3 separate regions of the Homo sapiens genome follow, and regions 1 and 2 are each linked to region 3. Evidence: fine-mapped expression QTL. A gene starts in region 3. Each other region holds a variant in brackets. All regions are shown on one strand. Distances are from middle to middle.

Region 1 (10,264 bases), 38 kb after region 3:
GGGATTACAGGGATAAGCCACTGTGCCCAGATTCATTTCTGACTTTTCTTTTTCTTTTTTCTTTTTTTTTTTTTTTTGAGACGGAGTTTTGTTCTTGTCGCCCAGGCTGGAGTGCAATGACAGGATCTCCACTCACTGCAACCTCTGCCTCCCAGGTTCAAGCGATTCTCCTGCCTCAGCCTCCCAAGTAGCTAGGATTACAGGCGCCCGCCACCACGCCCAGTTAATTTTTTTTTTTTGTATTTTTATCTGAGACGGGGTTTCACCATGTTGGCCAGGCTGGTCTTGAACTCATGACCTCAGGTGATCTGCCTGCCTCGGCCTCCCAAAGTGCTGGGATTATAGGCGTGAGCCACCGCGCCCGGCTTGACTTTTCTAACTTTCTCGTTGATGAGTAGATAGTTGTATCATCACAGATTAAATCTTGAGGTTTTCATCTATTCCTGGCTATGGTGAGAGCTACCCACCCTGCCAAGCTCAGGAATGCATTCTTTCAAATCATTCTGGATGCGTAGGGTACTAGGAATTTAGTCTGTATGATTGCATTTTATTTTAATTTAATTAGAACTTTGACCCTCGAACTTGCTCTCAGGGTGGGATATTCTTTAGAAAGCATGAATAGCCTATCCTTACTGTATACCATGAGAAAGTTAGTGATACTAACCAGTTATAATTTTATAAAAGAATATGATGATATATATAGTCAGCCCTCTGTATCCGTGGATTCTGTGTCTGGATTGAACAAACCATGGATCAAAAATATTTGGGGAAAAAAACAAAACAATAAAAATAATACAAATTAAAAAATATAGCACAACAAATTTACATGGCATTTACATTGTATCAGGTATTATGAGTAATCTAGAGATAATTTAAAGTATATAGGAGGATATGCATAGATTATATGCAAATTCCATTTTATATCAGGGACTTGAGCATATGAGAATTTTGATATTCACGCGAGGGGTCCTGGAACCAGTCCCTCGCAGATACTGAGGGATAGCTATATGCCTTATAAAATCCCAGGCATATTTGTTTATGAAAAGGCAAGCTAGGCTGGGCACAGCGGCTCATGCCTGTAATCCCAGCACCTGGGAAGGCTGATGCTGGTGGATTGCCTGAGTCCAGGAGTTCAAGACCAGCCTGGGCAACATAGTGAGACCTCATCTCTATAAAAAAATAAAAAAAATTAGCCAGGCATTCTGGCACAGTAGTTCCAGCCAGTTGGGAGGCCAAAATGGAAGGATCACATGAGCCCAGGAGGTCGAGGCTGCAGTAAGCTGTGACCGTACCACTGTACTCCAGCCTGGGCAACAGAGTGAGACTGTCTAAAAAACTGGCCGGTATGGTGGCCCACACCTGTAATCCCAGCACTTTGGGAGGCCGAGGCGGGTGGATCACCTGAGGCCAGGAGTTCGAGACCAGCCTGGACAGCATGGTGAAATCCCATCTCTACTAAAAATACAAAAAATTAGCCAGGTGTGGTGGCAGGCACCTGTAATCCCAGCCACTTGGGAGGCTGAGGCAGGAGAATTGCTTGAACCCAGGAGCCAGAGGTTGCAGTGAGCCGAGATCGCTCCATTGCACTCCAGCCTGGACAACAAGAGCGAAACTCCGTCTCAAACACACACACACACACACTCACACACTCACACACTCACCCACAAAAAACCCACCAAAACTTCTGGGTTGGATCTGGTGAGGTCACAATTTTGGATTTGGTTCCCACGTGGTCCAGTTTTGTTATTATGAAGTAAATCTCTGTTTCAGAGGCCACCATATCACATTTCTCGAGTCTCCTTGTAGACACCTAACTTGTCCGTGATGATGTGAGGTAATAACAGGAGATAATGATTCAGCAAAGCTTTGTCCCGCCACTGAGAAATTGCTTTGAAACAGTGGCCCATCCACAGTTGCAAAGTGGGGGTGATTCTTCTTCAGGGAGCATAGCGTAGCAGATTTTCCCCTGCGTCCTCTGTGTTTGTTCCTCAGTGTCTGGAAAGTGCTTACCCTAGAGAGTGAGCTTGGGACCATTTTTATTAAAGCTATTATTATTATTATTTGAGACAAAGTCTCACTTTGTCACCCAGGCTGGAGTGTGGTGGTGCGATCACACCTCACTGCAACCTCCACCTCCTGCGTTTAAGTGATTCTCCTTGCCTCGGCCTCTCAAGTAGCTGGGACTGCAGATGGGCACCACCACGCCTAGCTAATTAAGAAAATTTTTTTGTAGAGCTGATGTCTCCCCACAACCCAGGGTGGTCTTGAACTCCTGGGCTCAAGAGACCCTCCCACCTTGGCCTCCCTAAGTGCTGGGATTATAGGCGTGAACCACCGTGTCTGGCCATTAAAGGTATCCTCAAAACTCATTTTATAGTATTTATTTTCTTTTGATGTTCATTGATTTTTTTTTTTTTTGCTAAAGTTGTCTTGCTTTTTAATGTAGACCAATGGAGTGCATTTTACAGACAACAAAACATATCCTATATGGTGGGTAGCAAATTAAATAGGCTTTTTACTTTTTTTCTACTCTTTGATTCTTTACCTATTAAAATATTGCAGTTTTCTCTTCATTTAAAAAACTTATGAAATTCGTGCTTAATGTTAAACCTTGAAAACATAGACAAGATAAAGTAAACAAAGGCCATCTAACATCCCATAATCCTGGTTAATATTTTTGTGTATTCATCTCTCCTAAGGATGTGTCCATTAGCATTTTTTCCAGGTTGAATTACAGATACCTTTTTCAGAGACTGCATGCTAGTCTCTCATGATTCCCTTATCTGTTATATTGAAGTCGTGTGTGATCGCACGGGAAACTTGCTTTTGTTATTTGCCATCACCAAAGGACCCTTCTGAATGAAGAGCGAGGGCAGCTGGCTGTTGGGTGTGTGGCGTGTTGTCATCACTTGAACACAGGATTATTAAAGGTGCGCAGGATTGTTAAATGTGCCTGCTGTCGGCTGATGTCAGATGATCCCCTGGGAAGGTTTATTTATTTATTTATTTATTTATTTTTACCCTGCAGGCTCCAGTTCTGCTTCAGCAGATCTGGGATGGAGGCTGAGACTCCCCGTGATGCCCAGGCAGCTGTTCATGAGCCCCCTTTGGAGTACCATTGAGCCAAGGTCCTCTAGCATGGCCGAGTGCTCTCTGCTCTTGCAGTGAGGCAGTCTCTGCTTTTGTTCTGCTCAGGGCTGACCTGTTTTGGGGGGCTTCCTCCACTCTTGGGGGGCTTCCTCCACTTCCTGGCTCTTTTCCCTCATCCACGCTGCTCAAGACCCCATTTCTTCCCTGCTGTCTCATGCATACATCCACGCTCCTCCCAAACCTCTGTTCCTGTCACTCCAGCAGGCTCCTCCATCTCCCCAGGCCACCCTCCTACCACCACCACTCCCACCACCACATCAGAGTCCTTTTTTTTCCAGTTACTACTTGATTGCCCCCCTCCCCACTTCACCCCTCAGTTTCCTGTCTGGAGCCCTCAGATTCCTTTCTCTCCATGGAGGGCAGTGACTCAGAGGCGCCTACCTCAGAGGCGGCATCAATCAGGTGTGTCCTGGCCCCAAACTAGCTCTCCACTTGGGGCTCCCTGAGTGTTGAGGCCTTGGATTTCCTTGCAGGGGAAGGAAGGAGGGGTGAGAAAGATCCAGAATCTTCAAAGGAGCCTTCTTTGCCCAGTCCAACATCCACTCCACCCAGCTGACTGGAGAAATAAATGCTAGGTTTGACTGAACAAATAACAGTAATTAAGATCTGTTTCCTGAACAGCCTACCCCTTTGGCCTGTTTACTTTGCAGCCCAATAACAATTCATTCAGTCAGCCTGGCATTGAGGTCCATTGTGTATGATTTTGTTGCCGGAGTGCTAGTCTTCACAATCTAGGGCTGATAGAAGACTTCTGCCTTGTAATTTTAAAAAGTAGAGGGAACACCGCTGCCAATATGAGCAAGTTACTTGTTTCTATCTCTCTCTCTCTTTTTTTTTTTTATTTTTATTTATTGAGACAGAGTCTTGCTCTGTCGCCCAGGCTGGAGTATGGTGGCGCTGTCTGGGCTCACTGCAACCTCCGCCTCTGAGTTAAAGCGATTCTCCTGCCTTGCTCTCCTGAGTAGCTGGGATTACAGGCATGTGCCACCATACCCAGCTAGTTTTTTGTATTTTTAGTAGAGGCGGGGTTTGGCCATGTTGGCCAGGCTGGTCTTGAACTCCTGACCTCAGGTGATCCACCTGCCTCGGCCTCCAAAGTGCTGGGATTACAGGCGTGAGCCACCGCGCCTGGCCTGTGACTTGCTTCTATCTCTGTACTCCCGTACTTGGTTGTGTGTAGCCAATACCCTGAATGAAAAAAAACAAAAAGGTAAAGGTTGGCGGGTGGTGATGTAAGGTTATTTTCATTTCTGTTGATGATAGAAGAAATAAGTATAAGCACCTTCATTTGGCCCTGGTTCCTTTTGCAAATGTATTTTAAGAACATAAACAGGAGTTTCTCAAGCTGGGGGCGAAGGGGTAATTGCATGACAGTTCTCTGCCAGTTGGTGCCATCGAGGCAGCTGGTGCTTGAATGCAGGCATCCTCACAAAGGCTGTCTAGGGCTTTGTGCCAGCTTGCCTTGGAATGAGGACCTGCTCCAGAAGTGGGTGGAGGGGTGCTGATAAAACCCACTGGGCATCTGGCAGTGCTTGCTTGAAAAGGCAATGAACAGCGGCTATTTGTTTGGGGGAAAGGCACACACCTATTCGTTCCTTCCACTTCAAGCTAGAAGTGGAAGAAGAAGATGAATTTCAAGGGTGAAAAGAGGGAAGAGCTGGAAAGAAGGTTTCCTGAAGTTTGAGGGATGATGAAGGCTAAAGTTAACTGTGAGAAAAAGTGTTTTCTCAGCTGTAGGAAAACAGTGCAGCTGTTACTCCAAGAAAAAAGCTGTTAAACCAGGACTTTCATGGCACTACCAGGCATCCAGAACATGGGGTGGGCTAGAGGAGTGAGGGCGACCCTGTAGGAGGGACATGCGTCTTGAGAGGTTAGTGTGGGCCCATGCCTCCCTTTCCCCTTCCCCTGATCTTGCCTCTGAGCACTGGTACTATCCAGGTACAGCTGTGGTTTTCCAAACCAGAGGCCTGTTGTCTGACATTTTGTTTTCTAATTTATGTATTTATGTGAAAAATATTAGAAAGACTTGAAATAATCATCTTTTATTGGACACTGAATCCTAAAGAACAGGATTTTATGGGATCTAGGGTAGGTGAAGCGTGCAAGTTTTTCCTTGTTCAGAGCCCTTGTTGCTAGACTAACCACCTTGAAAGAGAAACATATTGTTACTGGGCAGTGGAATGGGTCAGAGGTGTTCTTTTGAGCAGTGAGCCCTTTCTGTGATGTGGTTTGTGGGGAGAGCGGCCAGTGGTTGAATCTGCACGTGGGGTGATTTAGTCGGGGCTGTCAGCTTCTCAGAAGCGCAGGAAGGGAGGTAGTCGGGGGTGGGCATTACCATAGCACAGCCTGTAGCTGTTCAAGAGCACCAGACTTTTTTTTTTTTTTTTGAGACAGAGTCTTGCTCTGTCACCAGGCTGGAGTGCAATGGCGTGATCTCGGCTCACTGCAACCTCCGACTCCCTGGTTCAAGTGATTCTCCTGCCTCAGCCTCCCAAGTAGCTGGGATTACAGGCACGTGCCACCATGGAGTTTCACTCTTGTTGCCCAGGCTGGAGTGCAATAATGCAATCTTGGCTCACTGCAACCTCTGCCTCCCGGGTTCAAGTGATTCTCCTACCTCAGCCTCTCATGTAGCTGGGATTACGGGCATGTGCCATCATGCCTGGCTAATTTTGTATTTTTAGTAGAGATGGGGTTTCTTCATATTGGTCAGGCTCGTCTAGAACTTCCGACCTCAGGTGATCCGCCCACCTTGGCCTCCCAAACTGCTGGGATTACAGGCGTGAGCCACTGCGCCCAGCCAGGAACACCGGTTTTGTGGCCACCCCAGGGTTAATGCGACACATGCTGGCTTTTC[G/A]TTTTAACTGTCATGAGGGAAACCTTTCAAAATGTATTAGACTCTGAGACACTTGAAACTGCCTTCTTCCTAGGATCAGCAGAGCATTTGTTTGTTTGTTTGTTTTTGAGATGGAGCAGAGCGTTTTTTAAAGCTACTAACGATGACTTCCTTTAGTTGTCTCAAGTGTCTGTTAGTATATTGCACAGTAGATACAGAAGTGTGGAACCCAGAGGATGAGTTACTAGCTCCTTCCTTTTCCAGACTGCTGAGTTGTTTGCACTGATGTGTTTTTTGATGCTCCACTGATGGTTGTCACTAGATTTGTCCTTGAGCCAAATCACCTAACCTTTCTGGGCCTCGGTTTTCACATCAGGAAAATAGGAGGACTGGACTAGATCAGGGACTTCCAGTGCAGGTTTTGGGATGTAGCCCTGTTTAGGTTGAATTTTCTGGATGCTGAGTTTGATTAAAAAATCCACTAAAATGTGAGTTTCCTGAGAGCAGGGACTATACTACCAACTCCTAGAACCAGTACCCAGTCACTAGTAAGCATTTAATAAATACTGTATGAATATAGAACTGCATTTTTGGTATTATACTGCATCCATATGTGTTACATATTGTGCATAGAATTTCGTTTGGTGGGGAGAAGAGCTCACTCGCCGCTAAACTCTTGAAGCTTCTGGTGCACTTGAGTTCTAAGGTCCTCTGCACTCCAGCTCTCTGAGAGCAGTGAAATGAGCTCCTTTCTGTTTCCATCCCCGAGCATACGGGCATCTAGCTGGCACTGGGGCCTGTCACCAGCCTAGAAAGCACTCCGTGGCTTGGCAGGGTTTGGGGATTGGGCTGGCACATAGCACCTCTTGGAAAGGGCTTGGCAGGTTTCTCCCTTGCAGCATAATCTCCATGACACAATGAGGCAAATTTTGGGTTTAGTGTTTCACTGGCTGCCGGTTGATAAGCTACTATTTATAAAGTAGAACGAGCAGGGTTTCTGCCCACCTTCTTTTTTGCTGAGACTATTTAAAATTAACTATTTTATAAATTAAAAATAAAACTTTTAAATAAACTTATTTTAATTAAAAATTTGTAAAATAAAAATATCAAAATAAAAAAATTAAAATTAAAAATTAAGAATAAAAATGTAAACATCAAACTTACTTTATAAATGAAACGAGTTTTTACTGTATTTTATTTTATTTGTTTTTTTAGAGACAGAGTCTCACTCTGTTGCCCAGGCTGAAGTGCAGTGATGCAATCTCAGCTCAATGTAACCTCAATCTTCTGGGCTCAATCCATCCTCCTACCTCAGCCTTCCAAGTAGCCGGGACTACAGGCTTGTGTCACCATGCCTGGCTAATTTTTGTATTTTTTGTAGAGACAGTGTCTCACTATGTTACCCAGGCTGGTCTCAAACTCCTGGACTCAAGCGATCTACCCACCTCGGCCTCCCAAAGTGCTGGGATTACAGGCAGGAGCCACTGTGCCCAGCCCTAAAACTAATTAAAAAAAAATATTTAAAACCCAATGGGTACTTTTGTTTTCTCCCAGTCTCCTACACTTCTCCGTTTTGAGTTTCAAGGTTTCATTTTCTTATACCTTTTTCTTAATAGAACTTACTTAACTCACCTTTTCAGCCCTGTTCTGCCACAGGTATTTGTTGCCTCAGTGGGTGCCAGTGAATGTTCCCACAGCTCTTGTTTTTTCCTCAGTGGAAATGAAGGTGTAAAGACGGCTTTAGCTTTCCAACAAGTTTTCTCACACACATAAGTTGCCAGCATGCTCTCCTGTGTTCAGACTGAAGGTGGTGAACCCCACAGTCTGACTGTGGAGATGGCTCTTGCTTTTCACCCCTAACTCAGTGGCTCTTAACTGGGGAGCCATTGTCTGGAGACATTTCTGATCATCACGCCTTGCAGGGGAGAGGGGGAGTTGTGACTGGCATCTAGCGGGTAGAGGCAGGGAGGGGCGCTGCTGAACATCAGCATCCAGTGTACAGGTCAGCCCCCGACAAGAAAGAATTTTCTGGCCCCCAGTCAATAGTGTCGAGTGATAGAAACGCTGCTCTGAAGGACCTGCCCCTGAGGAACGTTTGTTTTCTGTTGAGCTGTCAGAAGGGATGTTGTTTACCCTCAACCTCAAACCTTATAGATCTCACCAACCTGCTAAAATGTATCAAGTGTGATATGATATTTTTAATTTTAAGGTAGAGAGAGGGTCCTGTGATGGAATGATTCAAATAATCCCACTGCTGTCTGAGAACAGAGGACTTGATAAACATTCTTCTGGTGCTGAAAGTAGCCCTAACCTCCTGAGAAAGAGACTCCAAAAAAGGGGAACATCTTTGTCCCAGACTCCACTGTAACCCCAAAGCTGACTGATGGCTTTGTATGCGTTCATAGCCTCTTCTTGCCCATTTCAGACTTGGTTCTGGTGGCTGGAGATACTAAGTTGACCCTTGACTGTTTGTTTCATGGAAATGTTCAACGTGGAAAATAACACCGCTCTAGTATGTTGAAACTTGTTTGAGAAACCACTTGCCAGAAACTCATCTCTCACAGTCCCCACAATACTGCTGCCACAGTTATGGGCATGATGATGAAAGCCTTGGCGCTTTAGAGGATTCTCTGAACTCAAAATAAAATTTAAGAAACCCAGATAAAGGAACTATAAGAGCATATTTCTAGTCTAGGCAGATATATAGCTTCTGTTTAACTTCTTGAACTTTTAGGTAGCCGTATTAATCTGTTCTTGCATTACTATAAAGAAATACCTGAGACTAGGTAATTTATAAAGAAAAGACCTTTAAATGGCTCACCATTCTGCAAGCTGTACAGGAAGCATAGCAGGTTCTGCTTTTGGGGAGGCCTCAGGAAGCTTCCAATCATGGCGGAAGACAAGGGAGGAGCAGGTGTCTTACATGGCAGGAGCAGGAGCAAGAGAGAGAGAGAGTGGGAGATATCCCACACTTCAGATGACCAGATCTCATGAGAACACACTCCCTGTTGTGAGAACAGTACCAAGTGGATGGTGGTAAACCATTCATCAGAAATCTTCCCCCATGATGCAGTCATCTGCCACCAGGCCCCATCTCCAACATTAGGGATTACAATTCAACATGAGCTTTGGGTGGGGACACAAATCCTAGCCATATCGATAGCTGTTTAATTTTTTTATTTTATTTTTAATTGCTTCAAATTCTACCAAGTATTGGTTTATTTACATCAGTTAAACTCTATAAAGTTTTACAAGGCTTAAGGAATTTTTTTTTTCTTGCGGGGTAAAAAATGCATACATAAAATTTACCATCTTAACTACTGTTTTGAGATGGAGTTTCAGTCTCGTTGCCCAGGCTGGAGTGCAATGGCATGATCTTGGCTCACTGCAACCTCTGCCTCCTGGGTTTAAGCAATTCTCCTGCCTCAGCCTCCCAAGTAGCTGGGATTACAGGCACATGCCACCACACCTGGCTAATTTTTGTATTTTTAGTAGAGACAGAGTTTCACCATGTTGGTCAGTCTGGTCTCCAACTCATAGCCTCAAGTGATCCGCCTGCCTTGGCCTCCCAAAGTGCTGGGATTACAGGCATGAGCCACTGCTCCTGACCCAACTATTTTCAAGTGTATAGTACAGGAGGTGTTTTTTTGTTCGTTTTTTTTTTGTTTTTTTAATGCCTCAATTATGGTGATAGTTCACTCTGGCTGTTTTCTTCCAATCACATTGAAGTAGGTTTGATTTACTCATTGTCTGATGCATTTAACAAATATTTGAGGGCTTACCACCTATGAGGTGGAACAGGAATGTTTTGTTTTCTTCCAAAATAGAAACCTGTAATGTTTTTCTAATTATAAGATGTATGCTTGTTGCAGAGAGTTCAGAAAATACAGAAGAGCATAGTCACTCATAATTCTACAACTCTGTTTACTACTGTTGATGTACTGATATATCCTTCTAGTTTGTTTTTTGTTGTTGTTAGTGCTGATCTATGTCTTGTTATATTTTTACCCAAAATGCTATCATACTCTACACTATTAATATTAACTATTTTCAGTTTATACAGTGTGGACGTCTTTCCATGGCCATAAATTTTTCTGTATAACCTATATAATCATTTCAGTGGGTGTATTATATTCTACAACATGAACCTTCTGTAATTTAACTGATCTTAAATCTAAATCTTTTTATTGGACATCTAGGTTTCTTCTCTTAAACCACATGTATTAGATGTGTAATAGATGTCATGTAGATAGTCATCTTATGTATATCTTTGTTTTC
Region 2 (10,264 bases), 76 kb after region 3:
CTGATGACATTCCACCACAAAAGAAGTGTAAATGGCCGGTCCTTGCCTTAAGTGATGACATTACCTTGTGAAAGTCCTTTTCCTGACTCATCCGGGGTCAAAAAGCTCCCCCACTGAGCACCTTGCGACTCCCATTCCTGCCCACCAGAGAACGAACCCCCTTTGACTGTAATTTTCCTTTACCTGCCCAAATCTTATAAAACGGCCCCACCCTTATCTCCCTTTGCTGACTCTCTTTTCGGACTCAGCCCGCCTGCACCCAGGTGATTAAAAGCTTTTATTGCTCACACAAGCCTGTTTGGTGGTCCCTTCACACGGACGCGCATGAAATATAACATAATAGTGCTTTAGAATTAAAGAAGTTAACTTAATGACTACTATGGGTTAGGAACCGTGGTAAGCACTTCACAGGTGTTATCTGATGTAATTCTCAGGCAACTCCATGAAATGGGTGTCGGTATTGTTTCATTTTACAGATGGCACAACTGAGGCTCAGGGTGTGTATGTGTGTAGCTAGCTCAAGTTAGCAGTGGAGTTAGGAATGGAAGTCTTATGAGCTGTTTATTCTTACTTGATAGTTTGTGGCTTTGAGTTTGGTTGCTTTGAGGGTTGGAGGGAAACGCCTTGTTCTCAGGGGTCTGTATAGAAACAACATACAGCCTGCATGCGGTGGCTCACGCATGTAATCCCTGCACTTTGGGAGGCCGAGGCAGGCAGATCACCTGAGGTTAGGAGTTTGAAACCAGCCTGGCCAACATGACAAAACCCCATCTACTAAAAATACAAAAATTAGCTGGGCATAGTGGTGTATGCCTGTAATCCCAGCTACTTGGGAGGCTGAGACAGGAGAATCGCTTGAACCTGGGAGGCAGAGGTTGCAGTGAACCGAGATTGCGCCACTGCACTCCAGCCTGGGCAACAGAGCAAGACTGCATCAAAAAAAAGAAACAACATACAGTGTGTGAGCCTGGCTTAAGTGCCCTGTCCTTGGGTGCCCAGAGCCAGACTTAAGAGGTAACACCCTTAGCAGGCACATTCCTTTCACCCTGTGGTGTGGAATTTGTATGTGATGTATTTTTTCTTTTTCCAAAAATGGGGTGGACTTTGGAACAGCAAATATTTAATCGGAGCAAATTCCCCTTGCCAGAATCCTGCTAGCTTGTTCACCTTGGAGGTTCTTTGCCCAAAAATACTTACCACATACTGAAAACTAAATGTGCTAAGTCACCCACAGAGTATAAAGGAGGTCTTGATTAGGATTTGGAGCAGGGGGGTTGTTTACCTGTTTTTGATGAATATACAGTGTCAATGTACTCACCCTGTGATGAGCCTTAAAGGGCCCTGGCCGCATTCCAGATTCTGGAGTAAGCAAACAAGGGAGGGGATTTGTTGGGGATGGTGGCTCAGCCTGCTGCTGTTAGCATTCTCCTTGAAATGGATTTTGGAGGAAGAAAAAAGAGGTAGGGAGGCAGAGAAGGTCTAAAGGTGAAAGATGGGCTGGTATAGATGAAAGAGGTGCTAATGTGCATGTGTTATGGGGAAGATGTGGTTCAGGAATTAGAGTTGCTGATGGAGTAGAAGAGAGAAGGTGGGGAAGAAAATAATTTAGGGAATGTTTTAGAGCAATAAATCCTGTGTAAATGAAACAGCCTAATGAATGAAGTGGTATGGCTTCTCCATGAATGTAGCTTTTAGAGATTCAAAGCAATATTACCTCCTCGTTACTGGCACTACTCATACAGGTGTAACTTTTGTTTTGGGTTAGACTCTCTGAAACATTCATTTTTGTGTGTGTCCCCTACCATATTTCAGCACCTGAAAATTTTAACCATGCTGTTTCATCACTCATGTTTAAACACAGCTAAAAATTGAGGTTCCTCCAGAAAGCACCTGTGTGACTGACTTCTCATTACCCGCCTGCGGGTGCTTCCTTTCATGCGCGTCGGTGTGAAGAGACCACCAAACAGGCTTTGTGTGAGCAACATGGCTGTTTATTTCACCTGGGTGCAGGCGGGCTGAGTCCGAAAAGAGAGTCAGCGAAGGGAGATAGGGGTGGGGCCGTTTTATAGGATTTAGGAAGGTAATGGAAAATTACAGTCAAAGGGGGTTGTTCTCTGGTGGGCAGGGGCGGGGGTCACAAGGTGCTCAGTGGGGGAGCTTCTGAGCCAGGAGAAGGAAATTCACAGGGTTAATCACTCAGTTAAGGTGGGGCAGGAACAAATCACAATGGTGGAATGTCATCAGTTAAGGCAGAGCAGGGCCTTTTCACTTCTTTTGTGATTCTTCAGTTACTTCAGGCCATCTGGGCGTATACGTGCAAGTCACAGGGGATACGTGCAAGTCACAGGGGATGAGATGGCTTGGCTTAGGCTCAGAGGCCTGACACTTCCTGTATCCAGCCCCAATTGCTGTTCTAAAGCAATTTCCAGACCAGACTGTTCTCGCTGGGATACCCCTTGGTGATGCCCTAAGGTGTTAAAGAGCAAACTCCTGCTTTGTTCTTCACTTCTGCTGTCTGTCCTCTGCCCTCCACCCTCCCTCCACCCCAAACGGCAATGCCATAAAAAAAGAAGAAAACAAAACAGCTTTGTCTCATTCTTGTGCTTCATTCTTGTCATCTGTGCTCTCCTGCCAATTGTGAGCTCTACCTGCAGAATCTCTGGTTTCTCTGCCTGGGGTTACCTTCTTCACCTGTTCCCAGTGGCCTTCAAACTTGTCCCCTTGCCTCAAGTCTGTACCCTTTCACCACGTCTTCCACTTTGTAGCCAAAGGTGTTCTAGCTTCAGTAGTGCTTTTCCCCTTGCTTACAGGATGGGGGCCTGACTGCTAAGTCTGGCATGCACCTGGCCCTTCCCAGCAAGACCTTGCCTTTGTAGAGAAGGGAAAAATGGCTTCCTTCCACTCTTCTAGGTTCTTTCTCTGGAAGCAAATTAAATTGACATAAGACCAATTACAGGAGAAAAAGCAATTTTAAAAAGGGTCAGATAGGCTGGGCATGGTGGTTCACGCCTGTAATCCCAGAACTTTGGGAGGCTGAAGTGGGCGGATCATTTGAGGCCAGGAGTTCAAGACCAGCCTGGCCAACATGGTGAAACCCCATCTCTACTAAAAATACAAAAATTAGCCAGGCGTGGTGGCAGGCGCCTGTAATCCCAGCTACTCTGGAGGCTGAGGCAGGAGAATCACTTGAACCTGGGAGGCAGAGGTTGCAGTGAGGCGAGATTGCGCCACTGCACTCCAGCCTGGGCAACAGAGGTCTCAATTAAAAAAAAGCGGAGGGGGGGGGGGCGGTCAGATGATAGAAGCTTATGGCATGTTGAGCTACAGAGAGGAATAGGGGCTTGGGGCCTCTGGGAGTTGCTGGCAACACGTAATGGGAGAGTGAGGGGAAGAAATGTATGGTGAATAAACGTCTGATACACTTTACTAATGTAGATTTCCTCTACAGATGTAAATTTTTTGTATAAAACAGCAGCTTTGCAGAGCTACTCCTGTGTCTTCAGCTTCTCAGAATAACGAGCTTGAAATACGCAAAGAAGAATGTTTTAGGGTGGCATATCTTGGTTTTTGTGAGTGACGCCAAGGTCAGAGGTAACCAGGTCCACGAACATTTGTGTCTTTCCATAATGTTGGACTTAACTGATGCTATTTCAGTTACAAAAGCCACCAGCTATGTGGAGTTCCCAGGGAGCCAATTCTTCTTAGTACTTCTCATCCACTCATTAGATCTGCAGGCACACAGGTTCCAGCCTCTGCACCAGCCAGTCAGTATTGCAAACCGTACACAATCGTATACTCTGTCAATATATAAATGTTACTGATTAAACATTGTGCAACAAACAAAATAACATTTAACATTAAGAGAAAGGGAATAGGAAAAGGGTTAATGAAGTAGTCCAGGGAGAGCAATAAAGAAAAAAAGAATTTCCTGGTCTGGGCTGGTTAATCTGGTTGGTTGTGCAAGAAACAGTCTTTGATGTGGGCAGAGCCTTCGGGGCAGATGCCAGGTGCTTGTCACGAGTTAGAACCGTACCTACCCTTTTTATGGCCACAGAGTCCTCCAGTGAGGACTGATAGTTGAAGACTGTGCTTGTTTATCTACTTATCTGGTTGGATGCAGTCTTTATCAAGCAAAACATCTTGTCTCTGTTGTGACAAAATGGTGTAAAAAAAAAGTCATAAAAAATGTACAGTTTTAGGAATTTGCTGAAAACAAAATGTTGGCTATTTCCTCATGAAGTCTTTCACATGTCTTCATGAAAATGGAGCTGGCCAGGTACAGTGGCTGACACCTGTAATCCCAGCACTTTGGGAGGCTGAGGCAGGTGGATTGCTTGAGTCTAGGAGTTCGAGACCAGTTTGGTCAACATGGTGAAACACCAACTGTACACACACACACACACACACACACACACAAAATTAGCTGAGCTTGGTGGTGCATGCCTGTAGTCCTAGCTACTCAGGAAGCTGAGGTAGGAGGATGGCTTGAGCCCTGGAGGCGACGGTTGCAGTGAGCCAAGATTGCGCCACTGCACTCCAGCCTGGGTACAGAGTGAGACCCTGTCTCAAAAAGGAGTGGGGAGAAAATGGAACTCTTTGTTTGTTTGTGTAAAGGAAAATAAACCCTCTCAGGACTGCCCAAACTCTTTATGCCAAATGGAAACTTAAGACTGGAGAGACAGTCACGTGACACTGCTGCTGTCCCCTCGCACCTTGCCCCCCTGCCCAGTAGATAGCTGCGACTTCCCAACCTTGTGTCAAAGCGCTATGCATTAGCCACACCCCTGGAGAAGGCAGAAGGCCTCGTGCATCCCGGATGACTGCCCTCAAATTGCTCATAAGTAAATTCTCTGCTGGTCCCTAAACCTTTCAAGATGTGTATCTTCCCATAAAAAAGGACATGTCAGCTGTAACTTTAGGTCTGCAATCTAAGTCTAGCTCCCTGTCCACGGAATTGCAGTCTGTTACATTTCACACTGACAATGCCCATTACAAGCTTATCTTCCCAGGTGCAGAACAAAGACAGGACAGCAGTCATTTCTCTGCCTACCCTGAGACTACATAATTAACTCTTCCTTTACTCCCTTTTTGAATGTTTATCATATCTCTTTTATAGCGGAGTTTACTGGGCACTAGTTAAAATCTCAGGAGAATGTTGCATTTGCCTCACCACCTGCCCCCTTTTCCTGCATGCCTTCTCCCCTTTAAAGAAATGGGTAAATACCGAGCAACCTCTTTGGGAGCGCCAGCCACAGAGGATTCTGTGATTTGTGTGTTTCTCAGCAGCCCCTCAAGCTCTGGCTTAATTATTCCCCATTGAGACTCTTGCCTCAGTCTCTCATTTGGGTTGACATTTGTTTATGGAAATCGTGATAGCCACAGATATTATTGTTTCTTCAGTATCTTTTTCTGGAGAAGAAACTGTAAATTATCTTCTTTATCACACTTTCCTTTTACCTTCAGTTTTGTGCTATTTTTTCTCTGTGATACTTTATTTTTCTTATGAATAATAGTTATAATGTGATTTATTTTCTGTTCAGAAGAGTGTTCAACT[T/C]TGATGTTGATAAGAAGCAAGTTTTTATGACTGACCAAATCCTTATTTTATGACATTACTAGGAATGTGCTGCTTGTTCTCATTGTGTAAGATTTTAATTATTCTGATAATGAAACTGATTATTTCATGTGGAAGTCTTCTAATTTGGCTAGAATAAGCTATTGTCAACATTTATCAGAAGATTAAGACCCACTAATAAAGAGCTCCAGTGGATCAAGAAAATACCCAATTAACAGCCAATTCAGAGAAAAAAAACAGATGGCCATAAACTTGAGAAAAGATGCTGAATCTCACTAGTAATAAGGAAGATGTACCTTAAAACAGGATATTGGGTTTTTGCCTTTAAATTAGATGTCCAAGTTGGGAAATGTGCAATCTCAGATATTACTGGTAGGATGTAAATTGGTACAGCCTTTGAAAGTATGATTTAACTCATCTTGAAGTTTAAAAATGTAGATACTGGTTGAATATTCCTAATCCAAACATCTGAAATGTGAAATACTCTAAAATTTGAAACTTTTAAAGTGCCAACATGATACTCAAAGGCAATGCTCACTGAAGCATTCTGGATTTTTTTGGATTAGGGAACCTTAGCCAGTAATATAGTGTAAATATTCCAAATTCTGAAAGACTTCTGGTCCCAAGCATTTTGGATAAGGGACATTCAACCTGACTACTTGACCTACTAATTCCATTTCTAGCTCAGGTGTCTGTCCTACATAAATAATGGCACAGGTGCAGTGAGGCATGAACAGCAGTATTTATTGAATTAGTGTTTGTGATAATAAAAAACAAGTACAAAAAATAAAATTTAAAAACCCTCCCCAACAAAAAATTAAGATCAGTGTGAGAATGGTTATTGATTTTGATCAAGCCTTTTTACAGTATAAGATAGTGATGAAAAAGAATGTGATGGGATTTTGCGTATTAATAGAGAAAGACTCTTCATGGCTTATTGTTTATTTTTGTTTTCTTTTTTTGGGACAGAGTCTCACTCTGTTGCCCAGGCTAGAGTGCAGTGTCACGATCTCGGCTCGCTGCAACCTCTGCCTCCCAGGTTCAAGCAGTTCTCCTGCCTCAGCCTCCCTAGTAGCTGGGATTACAGGCACGAGCCACCACACCGGGCTCATTATTGTATTTTTAGTAGAGACAGGGTTTCACATGTTGGCCAGGCTGGTCTCAAACTCCCGACCTCAGGTGATCCACCCACCTCGGCCTCCCAAAGTGCTGGGATTACAGGCATGAGCCACCGTGTCTGGCCCAGCTTATTGTTAATTGGGAAAAAATATTGCAGAACATTACATACAATCTTTTATTTTAAAAAGCTGTTTTAATATATTTATTATATGCATAGTATGATATGAGTGTATGTATGTGTGTTGTGTATGTATATGTATATGTGAGTGTGTTGTATATATGTATACACACACATTTATGTATGTGAATTAATACAAATACTCTACCCACCAATTGTTTACTCTTCTGAGGGAGAGGAGTGACATTTTGGGTGGATAGTAAAAGAAGTCTCTGATTTTTTATTTGTATATATGTATACATATCAACAAAAATATATCCATGTATTGAAATGGGATTTTAGGCCAGGTGCAGTGGTTCATACCTATGATGATCCCAGCACTTTGGGATGCGAAGACAGGTGGATTGCTTGAGCTCAGGAGTTCAAGACCAGTCTGGGCAACATGACAAAACCCCATCTCTACAAAAAAAAAAAAAAAAAAAAAAATACAAAAATTAGCTGGGCATGGTGGTGCGTGCCTGTAGTCCCAGCTAATTGGGAGGCTGAGGCAGGAAGATTACCTGAGCCTGGAAGATCGAGGCTGCAGTGAGTTGTGATTGTGCCACTAAACTCTAGGCCGGGCAACAGAGCCAGAGAGACCTTGTCTTGGGGTCGGGGGTGGGGTGGGGGTGGGGGTGGGGGCGGTTAAAAAAAAGGTAATTTTTGTAAAATCTGATGTTGGATTTCAGAAGTCATTTGGGGCAAGTAAAGGCTGAGTGTTACTTTATGATCACTGTATCTTTAAAAAAGATTCAGAGAAAATTAGAAAAATATCTCTTTAGAAGATAGATCCTCAGTCTGTTTCTTTATGCACACGATCCATTTCCACAGTGGATGTTGTGGTTGGCTGCATGAACACTCCGTGACAGTCCACCTCTCACTCAGTTGTAACAGATGACTTTTCTAAACTTTCTCCTCAGATTCCTTTTTTTGAAGATATGTGTAAAGGCATTAAAGCTGGTGACACCTGTGAGAAGCTGGTGGGATATTCTGCCGTGTATAGAGTCTGTTTTGGAATGGCTTGTTTCTTCTTTATCTTCTGTCTACTGACCTTGAAAATCAACAACAGCAAAAGTTGTAGAGCTCATATTCACAATGGGTAAGTATTTTAGTCTTCTTGGGGATTGCTTTCTCCTTTCTTATGTTCAGGACAGTAGTCCAGGATCCCATCTGCCCACCAGACACTGTGACTGCCCTTCTTCTAGTTGAAATTGTTGATTTAGGGGAAGGTGGAATTGATACTTACCCACATGGTTGCCTCAAAGGTAGAATCTTATTTGTAACACCTGGTACCATGATGCGAAATTTACTCAAGACAAAGAGTTTATTTCTTGTTCCAAGACCTTCCCCCAGGTCATTTCCACCCCTGCAATGAAATGGTGTTTTGCACAACTGGAGGCTGCACTGAGTCTGCCTAATTATGGGAAAAAGCATTCTTCAAGTCACCTAGTTACTTCCCCTTGATTAGGAGAGAACATTGGCCAATGGCAGAATCATGGATTGACATGCTGTACCTTCTACGAGGTCCTTTGTCCTTCTTGAATGTCATTTAAATACATTTCCTCTTTTTTTTCCCCCCACTTCTAGCTTTTGGTTCTTTAAACTTCTGCTGTTGGGGGCCATGTGCTCAGGAGCTTTCTTCATTCCAGATCAGGACACCTTTCTGAACGGTACTAATGGGGTATTTTGGGTATCTGTTTATTTTGTTTTTACCCATTTTGTCAAATTGCTCAGAAGCGCAGTCCAAAGTACCTCTGATAGTTAGAATTACTGATTTTCTTTTGGCTTCAAAAGAAATTCCTGACTTACCTGCCCATACTTTTTCCATCATTGCCTATCTACCTCCCCTCTTCTCACCACCGCATCCCACTTCCAGGTAGGGTGTAAGAGGACTCTGATACTCTGCTGGCCTGGGAGACCTTGTTCTTTCCAAGCACTGCACAGAAAACCCAGCAACAGGGAGCGCAGGGCTGTCAGCAGCTAAATGTCTGCTGCAGCGATAGTGGGACAGGAAAAGCATCTTTCAGTCTGTTATTAAACTTACCGTATGTGAAGCTCTGTAGCATTGAATTATATTCTTTATTGTTAGAACCTGCTTTAATTCATTAATATGAAGCCTTTAATCATAGCTGAAACAGGGCGCCCTTTTTCATATGAGCTGAGGGAAAAACCTGAATTTCAGTGGTTCAGAGCATTTTGTTCAACCCAAATGGATTCACTTTCCTAAGTAAGGTATTAAAAACATTTAGGCCAGGCGTGGTAGCTCACACCTGTAATCCTAGCACTTTGGGAGGCTGAGGTGGGTGGATCACTTGAGGCCAGGAGTTCGTCTGAGACCAGCCTGGCCAACATGGCGAAACCTCATCTCTACTAAAAAATATAAAAATTAGCCAGGCATGGTGGTGTGTGCCTGTAATCCCAGCTACTCAGGAGGCTGAGACATGAGAATTGCTTGAACCTGGGAGGCAGAGGTTGCAGTGAGCCGAGATTGCACCACTGTACTCCAGCCTGGGCGACAGAGTGAGACTTTGTCTCAAAAACAAAACTAAACTAAACATTTAGATTGTGTCAGTTTATAAGGAACAGCCATAATCCTTCATATAGTTATGTATCAGGGCCTAGCTAGTTGTTTAAGGTCATACTTGTTTTTCATGTACTCCCTAAGTCTTGCTGTTACCTAAAATACTGTTAAAAGTTTTAAAATTCTCTACAGAGATCCTTTTATGTATTAGAATGTATATTTGGAGGGAGAAGAGACCTAGAAACCCTCTGGTCCAGCTCAGTCTTTTTTTTGTTTTTCGAGACAGAGTCAGAGTCTCGCTCTGTTGCCCAGGTTAGAGTGCAGTGGCACGATCTCGCCTCACTGCAGCCTCTGCCTCACGGGTTCAAGCAATTCTTCTGCCTCAGCCTCCCGAGTAGCTGGGACTATAGGCACGCACCACCACGCCTGGCTAATTTTTGTATTTTTAGTAGAGACGGGGTTTCACCATATTGGCCAGTCTGGTCTCAAACTCCTGACCTTGTGATCCGCCCCCTCTTGGCCTCCCAAAGTGCTGGGATTTACAGGTGTGAGCCACTGCGGCCGGCCAAGCTCAGTCCTTTTTTTTTTTTTTTTTTTTTTGAGACCAAGTCTCGCTCTGTCACCCAGGCTGGAGTGCAGTGGTGCAATCTCAGCTCACTGTGACCTCCACCTCACAGGTTCAAGTGATTCTCCTGCCTCAGCCTCCTGAGTAGATGGGATTACAGGCACCCGCCACTATGCCTGGAGTTTTTTTTTAAGTAGAGTCAGGGTTTCACCATGTAGGCCAGGCTGGTTTCCGACTCCTGACCTCAAGTGATCCCCCTGCCTCAGCCTCCCAAAGTGCTAGGATTGCAGGCATGAGCCACTGTGCCCAGCCCCAGCTCAGTGATTTTTA
Region 3 (8,934 bases):
GAAAAAACTCTGAGTGGGGAAAGGGAATGAGCCTGTATAGACTGTTTCTTTTTAATTTTCTTTTTCTTTTCAAGATGGAGCCTCATTCTGTCGCCTAGGCTGGAGTGTAGTGGTGTTTTCTCGGCTTACTGCAACCTCCACCTCCTGGGTTCAAGTGATTCTTGTGCCTCAGCCTCCTGAGGAGCTGGGATTAAAGATGTGCCGCGACGCTCGGCTAATTTTTGTATTTTTAGTAGAGAAGAGGTTTCACCATATTGGCCAGGCTGGTCTCGAACTCCCAACCTCAGGTGATTTACCCACCTCGGCCTCCTAAAATGCTGGGATTATAGGCATGAGCCACTGTGCCCGGCCTCTTTTTTTTAATGGACAGATCCTGCCTCATGTTTGTTTGTATAAATAGAAAAGAATGGTACCAGCTCCATGCAGAAACAGATGGCAGCCCAGGGCTCACACCAGTCCTTCTGTCCTCCCATTGGTAGACAGAGGCCTCTCCTCCAGATCCTTTGTGGGTGTGCATGGGCACCCTTGGAAATTTGATCTGGAGCTGGAACTGGAACTGGAACTGGAGCTGGAACTGGAACTGGAACTGGAGCTGCAACTGAAGTCTGGGCTTTGGTTGGAGCCTTGGCCTTGGACTTTGGCCGGCAAAACCAGCCTTGGCCAGGTGGGTTCAAGCATGCTTCCTAAGCTTGGGGTGGATGATTCAGGCAAGTTGATTGAATTTTCAGCTGATGTCTTTTGGTATCTTGAGCTTGACCATGTAGGGGTGAAGGGCAAACTTCCCCTTTACCCTCTGAAGTTTCACTGAAAATCAACCGACAAGGCAGATTAAAAGGAAAAAAGGCATACAAATTTATTTGATCATAGTTTTACATGCCATGGGAGCCTTCAGAATGAAGATCCAAAGATACAGCAAAATTGTCCATTCTTATGCTTACATTCAACAGAGTATGGACAGCCATGTAGAAATGTGACTGGACAAAAAGTATATTGTTACCAGAGTGGGGTCCTCATCCAGTCCACAAGAGAGGGTTCTTGAACCTCACGCAAGAAAGAATTTGGGGCAAGTCCATAAAGTGAAATCAAATTTATTAGAGAAGTAAAGGAGGTAAAGAATGGCTACTCCATAGGCAGAGCTGCAGCATGGGCTGCTCAACTAATTATAGTTATTTCTTGATTATATGCTAAACAAGGGGTGGATTATTCATGAGTTTTCCGCGAAAGGGATGGGCAATTCCCAGAACTGAGGGTTCCTCCTCCTTTAGACCATATAGGGTAACTTCCTGATGTTTGTAAACTGTCCTGGTGCTGGTGGGAGTGTCTTTTAGCATGCTAATGAATTATAATTAGTGTATAATGAGCAGTGGGCACGACCAGAGCTCACTTTGGTCGCCATCTTGATTTTGATGGGTTTTGGCCGGCTCCTTTACTACATCCTATTTTACCAGCAAGGTCTTTGTGACCTGTATCTTGTGCTGACCCCCACCATCTCATCCTCGAAGAATGCCTTAACTTCCTGGGAATACAGCCCAGCAGGTCACAGCCTTATTTTACCCAGTCCCTATTCAAGATGGAGTCTCTCTGGTTCAAATGCCTCTGACACTATTAACCTGGTTTTGAAGATGAGGAAACTGAGGCTTGGAGGTCACCCAGCTACTTCTTGGTAGAGTTAGAATTTGCAACTTCCTGGCTTGAAAACTCAGGCTTTATCCTTTTCTGGTACCTTTCAATAGAGGCTACAAGTCCCCAGGTTATTTATTTATTTATCTATTGAGATAGAATTTTGCTCTTGTTGCCCAGGCTGGGGTGCAATGGCACCATCTAGGCTAACTGCAACCTCCGCCTCCTGGGTTCAAGTGATTCTCCTGCCTCAGCCTCCTGAGTAGCTGAAATTACAGGTGCCCACCACCCTGCCTGGCTAATTTTTGTATTTTTAGTAGAGACAGGGTTTCGCCATGTTGGCCAGGCTGGTCTTGAACTCCTAACCACAGGTGATCCACCCACCTTTGCCTCTGAAAATGCTGGGATGACAGGTGTGAGCCACCGTGCCTGGCCAAGTGCCCAGGTTATTAAGACTCTTTCTCCAGGTGGCAGACATCCACATTCTCAGAGTCCTCTCACATTGGCATGGAACTAGCAATGTAGGGGAGGGAAAAATGGCTTCCCTCTACCCTTCTAGGTTCTTTACTTGGATTGCAAATTAAATTGACATAACAGAGATTTTTTTTTTTTTTTTTGAGACGGTATCTTGCTCTGTCGCCCAGGCTGGAGTGCTGTGGCACAATCTCGGCTAACTGCAACTTCCGCCTCCTGGGTTCAAGCGATTCTCCTGCCTCAGCTTCTGAGTAACTGGGATTACAGGTGCGCACCACCTCGCCCGGCTACTTCTTTTGTATTTTTAGTAGAGATGGGGTTGCACCATGTTGGTCAGGCTGGTCTCAAACTCCTGACCTCGTGATCCGCCCACCTCGGCCTCCCAAAGTGCTGGGATTACAGGCATGAGCCACCACGCCTGGCCGACATAAGACAGATTAACAGAAGAAAAACCGTTTTAATTACCTGCATACGCAGCAGCACAGGAATCTCACAAAACATGAAGGGCCAGATGATTGAAGCTTATAGCATTCTGAGCTAGAAATAAATAAGGGCTTGGGGCTTCTGTGGGGACAGTGGGGAGGCACCACAGGTAGGATATAGGAGGGTTAGTGGAGGAAATGTATGGTAAATAATGTTGCCTTGTGGCTGCGCGCGGTGGCTCACACCTGTAATCCCAGCACTTTGGGAGGCCGAGGTGGGCGGATCACGAGGTCAGGAGTTCGAGACCAGCCTGACCAACATGGTGAAACCCCGTCTCTACTAAAAATACAAAAATTACCCGGGCGCGGTGGCGCGCGCCTGTAATCCCGGCTACTTCAGAGGCTGAGGCCGGAGAATCGCTTGAACCCGGGGGGCGGAGGTTGCAGTGAGCCGGGATCATGCCAATGCACTCCAGCCTGGGCGACTGAGCGAGACTCTGCCTCAAAAAAAAAAAAAAAAAAAAAAAAAAAAGTTGCCTTGTTATGTAAAGTCTCTCATGTAATAAAAGTTCTCTGAGCAGCTGCCTTCCTGACACAGATACTTTTACTATGTGGACTTCCTTTATAGATGTAAATTTGCTTTACAAAAGGACAGCTTTTCAGAGCTACTCCCGTGTCTGCAGTTTCTCAGAATAACCAGCTTGAAATGTGCCAAACAAGTGTATTTTGGGATAGCATATTTTGGTATTCTACAGTCATAATTTGGGGTGCTGTGGCCTGAGCCTCAGCAGCAAAAAGAGGACATGATTCAGGGTTCGGAGCGCTGGATTCTATTACCAGCTCTGCCCCCTAACCCAGTGGTCTCTTGTGAAAGGTCCTCGAGTTCCGAGTCGAGTCAATTTCCCTAAAAGGCAAAGAGGCATCGGAGTTCCAGCTGGCTTAAACATTTGTAGATTTCGCGCCTTCCCTTTTCGCCCCTCCTTCCTCTCCACCCGTCTCCCCACCCCGAGCTACTAGGGGGCCTGCCCATTTCCCCAGGCCAGGAGTAGGGCTGAAGTGAAGTGACCGCGGTCGTAGCCAACAGCGAAGCTCATTAGAAAGTCCTGGTGAGAGCCTCAGCTTCTGATGAGTCACAGATCGCCACGGAGCAGGTTGCTGCGCTTGACTGATTGGGTTTACCCTATTTTTGTTTTGAGTTAGAGCCAACTGTCCTCATTCCTTTTCGTGGCTCTGAGTAGGGCCTGCTCCATTATATCTCTTTCTCTAAACGCCTGCATCTGAGATGCTGGAAAATCCTGCGCAGCTCATAACCCAAGGCCTGGTTTCCATTCACCTTTCCTCTTCTACTCCTAAGCTGCCCAAGACACTCCTTTGCCAGAGCTCTGTCTGGAAACGAGTCCCTCTAAGGTCAAGCCTTGCGTCATGTGCCAGGGGATCAGACGAGTGGATTCCAGGCCCAGTTTTACTTCCTCAACTTTGCTGTGAGGCTTTGGGCAAGTTATTTAACCTCTCTGGGCTTCAGTTGCCTCACCGCTAAAATGGGTACGGTAATGCTTATTTGAAAGAGCAAAGGGATTGGCGCAAAAATCGCACTAACAGAAATATCTTCATTCCGGCAGGGCGCGGTGGCTCACGCCTGTAATCCCAGCACTTTGGGAGGCCGAGGCGGGCGGATCACCTGAGGTCAGGAGTTCGAGACCAGCCTGGCCAAGATGGTGAAACCCCGTCTCTACTAAAAATACAAAAAATTAGCCGGGCGTGGTGGCAGGCGCCTGTAATCCCAGCTACTCGGGAGGCAGAGGTTGCAGTGAGCCGAGATCGCGTCACTGCACTCCAGCCTGGGCGACAGAGTGAAGCTCCGTCTCAGAGAAAAAAAAGAAAAAAAAAAAAGAAATACCTTCATTCCTCTTGGGGAGGTGGCTGTGAGGACAGCAGATCTGAGTGGGAGAAAACCTAGAGACGGCCTCCCTGCCTTCTGTATGGAACAAGCAATTATTGGGCACCCTCTTTTTAGTGAGGAAGCAGGGACGGAAAATGAGTCCTTGGGCCAGCGCAGGAGGAGAGGCTGGAAAACATATCAATATTCAGGAAGGCACGGAAAGGGCTCTCAATGGATCTCTCACCAAGTGCCATCAGGGCAGAACAGTCAAGGGCCCAGGGATTCGAGGAAGCTTGGGAGGCGCGGAGAGCCCAAAAGTTGAAAGTTTTCTTGGCAGATGAGGGAAGGAAAGGGATTTCAGGAACAAGGATCTCGTGGGTGGGCTGTCCCAGTCGGCGCGCGGCAGAGCGCAGACCAGCACCCGGCGGTCTGGTCTGTGCAGGAAAGGCAGGAACCGCTTACTAAGGCTCCAACCTTTTAGAGGCAGCAACAAGCTCTTTCTCTGGATCCGAAGGCGGAGAGGCGCTGCGCTCTCATTTGGCGAGGGCCCGAGCGCGGCCAGACCGCGCACCAGACCCGGAGCGTGGGGCCCAAAGGCTGGCGGCCGACTCCGGAGCTCGGCGCCCCAACCGGGAAGTGATCGCAGCAGCCCACCCGCCTGACGCCAGCGGAAGTGCGAGCCCGGGTCGAGCCTGCTCCGCCGCCGGGCGCCCGGGAAGGGGCGGGCACGGGGCGGGGCTGGGGGCGGGCGAGGCGGGGCCGGCGGCGGGGCGGGGCTTGGCCGCAGTTGTTTTTACCCAGGCCTCGGCGCCTAGGCGCTTCGCCGAGGCTGATCTTCGTTCAAGTGTGAGCTGCGGCTGAGCCCAGCGCTCGAGGCGCGAGGCAGCCAGGAGGGCCCGTGCGGCGCGGGGAGCCAGCGAGCGCGCCTTCGGCATTGGCCGCCGCGATGTCAGCTCAGTGCTGTGCGGGCCAGGTGAGCGAGGCCGGGCGCAGCGCGGGGGTTGTCAGATCGGAGAACCGGGCCAGGAGTCCAGGCGTGGAGGACCTGCCTGGGTGCGCTCCCAGCTCCGCGGCCGAACGTAGGGCCCGGGTGGGTCGCTCGGGCTGGCCCCGCGGCGCTCAGCCGTCCGGGAAATCCTGTGCCCTGGGCGGGCGGGAAGGGGCAGGGGGAAGCCCGAGAGGCTACCCCGGGGTCTTCCCGTCCGGCCTCCGGGACTCCGCGTGGAGCGGGGCGTGCCGGGCTCGGGCGGAGGATCCCGACTGCTCCAGGGGCGTGTCGCCTCTTGCGCCGAGCACTGGTGAATAGCGCTGAGCTCCGTAGCCCTCTCCACTCTGCTTGTCGGATGAATCCAGGAAGAAAAGTGGGTTTAGGCACCGTCTCCTTTGCTATGCCCTGAATAAAACTCGGGTCAAACAACCCAGGCAGGTTGCGCTTGGCATCTCGTAGTCGAGCGTGGGCTCTGTACCTTTGAGAATGTCTCGAAGCCTGACTTCCAAACTACCGGGCGCAGGTCTGGGCGAAGGGAAAACTCAGCCCTGCTTCCTGAATTTCCCGACCCAACCCTGGCTCGGTACTAGCACGACTGCCTGGGTAGGGCTGGAACCTTCCTGCCTCTCTTTGCAAATAAACTTGTTCGAACCTGTTTTTTAACTCTCGCCTATTTAAACCTATGATGTCTTAAAACATTATGTCTCCTACCAGTTACTGCATCAGTGTAGAATTAGTACGTCTTAGCCCTGTAATGCTGGTTTCACTCCTTCCTGCAGAGTTAGAAAAAACGAAGTAGGTGAGTCTCTTGGATGTGGAGCTCTTTTCTCCCTTTACATGTGGATTATCAGCGTTTCGGTACAGAGTTTTAATGGAGTGTTTTCACGAACGAATCAGACTCTAGGGAGCATCCTGGTTCGGGGTGTTCTTGCTGACACTCAGCCTTTCCACAATCGAGGCCAGCTGTAAGTGATGGAGTGGTTAAACTGTGGGTTTCTGTAACCGGCGATTATACTGGCAGATAATCTGTCCTGTTTAGAGTGGCCACGTGGAGCTGTCTTGGTTTTTGAGGTCTAATACTGTGCTTGGCATACATTAAAGCTGGCCTTTTCAGAGTTGAGGAAATTGAGGCTTTTGACGACTGAGACGAAATGATTTTTTTTCCCTGTGTCAGGCAGAGAGAGAAAGAGAATGAGAATGGTCACCACCTTACCAGGTATTTGAGAACAAGGTGGACCAGGAAAGACTGTTTTCAGAAAGCTCTGCAAATCTTTTATTCCCGTTTTGAAATACTTTTTCTCCAATATGATGCGACACTTTTTATTACGTAGTAATGATACAGCTCTTTAGGGGCATCTGTCCTGGTCCCTTGAAGTCCCCTTGAGGCTCTTTCTGCCATTCCCAAGTTCCTAATTTAGAGCTCTGTAATTACCAGTATTCAAATGGGTTTTGTAAAAGAATTATTTTGCTGTTGATGTTTTAGCAGGTTTCTAAAGTCTCCCCTCTTAGGACTTTGGAAAGAACCAAATCAAAGTTAACCCCTGCTTTCCCAGGCCTGCTGGAGGCATCACTGTGGTGGGCCTCAGTGCTGTGTGATGGTGATCACACTGTGATTTCCTGTGGATGGGGCGGTAGGAAGTTAAAAGAAAAGCAAACAGGCTGGGCGCAGTGGCTCATGCCTGTAATCCCAGCACTTTGGGAGGCAGAGGCGGGCGGATCACCTGAGATCAGGAGTTGGAGACCAGCCTGACCAACGTGGAGAAACCTCATCTCTACTAAAAACACAAAATTGCCGGGTGTGATGACGCATGCCTGTAATCCCAGCTACACAGCTAAGGCAGGAGAATCGCTTGAACCCAGAGGCAGAGGTTGTGGTGAGCTGAGATCACGCCATTGCACTCAAGCCTGGGCAATGAGCAAAAAGAGCAAAACTCCATCTCAAAAGAAAGGAAAGCAAACAAAACCTCACAGCACCGTCAGAAGTTACCAATTCTTGTTTGTTTCTGTGGGCACCTGCCTTTTGCCAGGAGCCTGCTATATAGTCATAAGTCAGACAAGCATCTCTGCTCTCAATGGCCTATCTGGGCAGGGGAGATCATTCATAAACATGTAAACAATGAAACAATGAATATGGTACTGGTACTGTCAGAAGGCCGTGTGGTAAGCAGCCTTGAGGAGGGTTGCCGAGGGAGTCTGAGAAGATGCCTGTGGAGTTGAGACTGCTCAGTGAGGAGAGGCAAGGGAGTCTAGGGTGGCTGGGGTGTCTTAGATGAGGTCAGAGAGAAGAGCAGGACCAGAAATGGCCAGAACCTGTCAGCTGCCTTTGGACTTTGGATTTAATTCTGGTTGCAGTGAGAGGCTGTGGGAGGATTCTGAGCAGGGGCGAGCTGTGGTTTGATTTGCACTTAGAAGATAATTGGGATGTCGTGAAGACTGGACTGTAACGGGCTAGAGTGGAGGTGAGGAAAGCAGTTCGAGTTGGTCATGAAGCAGTTGGTGAGGAAAACCTAAGTGGATATTTGCCTCTTAGGGGCAAGCAGTGTTCTAGGCTTCGGCAGTGAACAAAAATCCTTTCCTGATGGAGCTCGAATCCTGGCAATCTGCTGTTGCTGTAGTCCCAGGAGGAGACAGCGTGGTACCTTAATTTAGGCTATGGCTGTAGGAGTGAGTACAGTGGGACATCATTGGCTTTGGGTATATTTCAGAGGTAGAACTGGATTTGAGCAAGGATTAGAAGTGGGATGTGGGAATGAGACAGGCTCGGTTTCTGGCCTGAGCCACTGGGTAGATGATGATCGCATTACTGAGGTGAAGTAGGAAATTGTTAGGAAGAGGACATTTGGTGAGGAAAACCCAAGTTTCTTGGCTTCGTTACATTAGAGATGCCTATTATAAATTTAATGGAAATGGCAAGTCACCAATTAGGTATTTAGGTCGGGAGAAGTTTGAGGTCGGAGAGAGACATTTTGGTGACTTTCTTTAACTGCGGACCATCCTGAACAATATGTAACCCATAAAAGAGCCTGGGCTTTGGACTCAGGCCTGGGTTTCAATTTGGAAATCTGGACAATGAGGACTGGTGTGACTGGATGAGTTACTTACCCTCTATGACCTCATTTTACCTCAACTATTGAATGGGTACTTCTTAGGGTTATTGGGAAAATTACATGTGATGATAAGTGTAAAGTCTGTAATATAGGATTTGGCAGAGTGTGAGGAACCCCCCAAATCTTATTAGTGGCCATTACCCATCTGCATCAGGATAATATCCAGATCAGCTTATTTTATTTTTGTATCTACTCTGATATTCACTTTGGTTTTGCTTAGGCTGTTGGCTAATGGATGCTAAGAAAGTAGAGATTACAGGGGAGTGGTCACTCAACACTTTATGGGTTCAAAGTTCTGTGCTAGGCCCCTAGAGACACGGTAATGAACACAGGGCTTCCTTGTTCTCCTTTAACTTAAGGGCTATGTGGAGGTGGGAGTGTTGGGGGAAGTTAGCTACAGAAAATGACAGTGCAGGCTGGGCATGGTGGCTCTTGCCTGTAATC

What was found. PIP is the estimated chance that this variant, and not a neighbour inherited with it, causes the effect.
Region 1: its variant is fine-mapped to the expression of SERINC5 in whole blood (INTERVAL, PIP above 0.99).
Region 2: its variant is fine-mapped to the expression of SERINC5 in adrenal gland (GTEx, PIP above 0.99).

The regions. Positions count from the first base shown.
Region 1 is chr5:80,213,947-80,224,210 of GRCh38, reverse strand. The region is part of intron 1 of SERINC5 (serine incorporator 5); the gene reads left to right. Among named protein-coding and RNA genes, the nearest start is that of SERINC5, 37 kb to the left of the region's middle. The variant G/A (reference allele first, on the strand shown) is at 6,008.
Region 2 is chr5:80,175,569-80,185,832 of GRCh38, reverse strand. It overlaps SERINC5 (serine incorporator 5), which reads left to right. Exons shown (of 12, transcript NM_001174072.3): 3 at 7,769-7,947; 4 at 8,436-8,518. Among named protein-coding and RNA genes, the nearest start is that of SERINC5, 75 kb to the left of the region's middle. RefSeq lists enhancers at 1-235, 1,880-2,700 and silencers at 1,212-1,506, 1,772-2,066. The variant T/C (reference allele first, on the strand shown) is at 5,555.
Region 3 is chr5:80,252,330-80,261,263 of GRCh38, reverse strand. SERINC5 (serine incorporator 5) reads left to right here and starts at 5,216. Exons shown (of 12, transcript NM_001174072.3): 1 at 5,216-5,368. The coding sequence starts at 5,342. RefSeq lists silencers at 520-814, 4,904-5,343, 5,454-5,733 and enhancers at 2,251-3,182, 3,183-4,116, 4,117-5,050.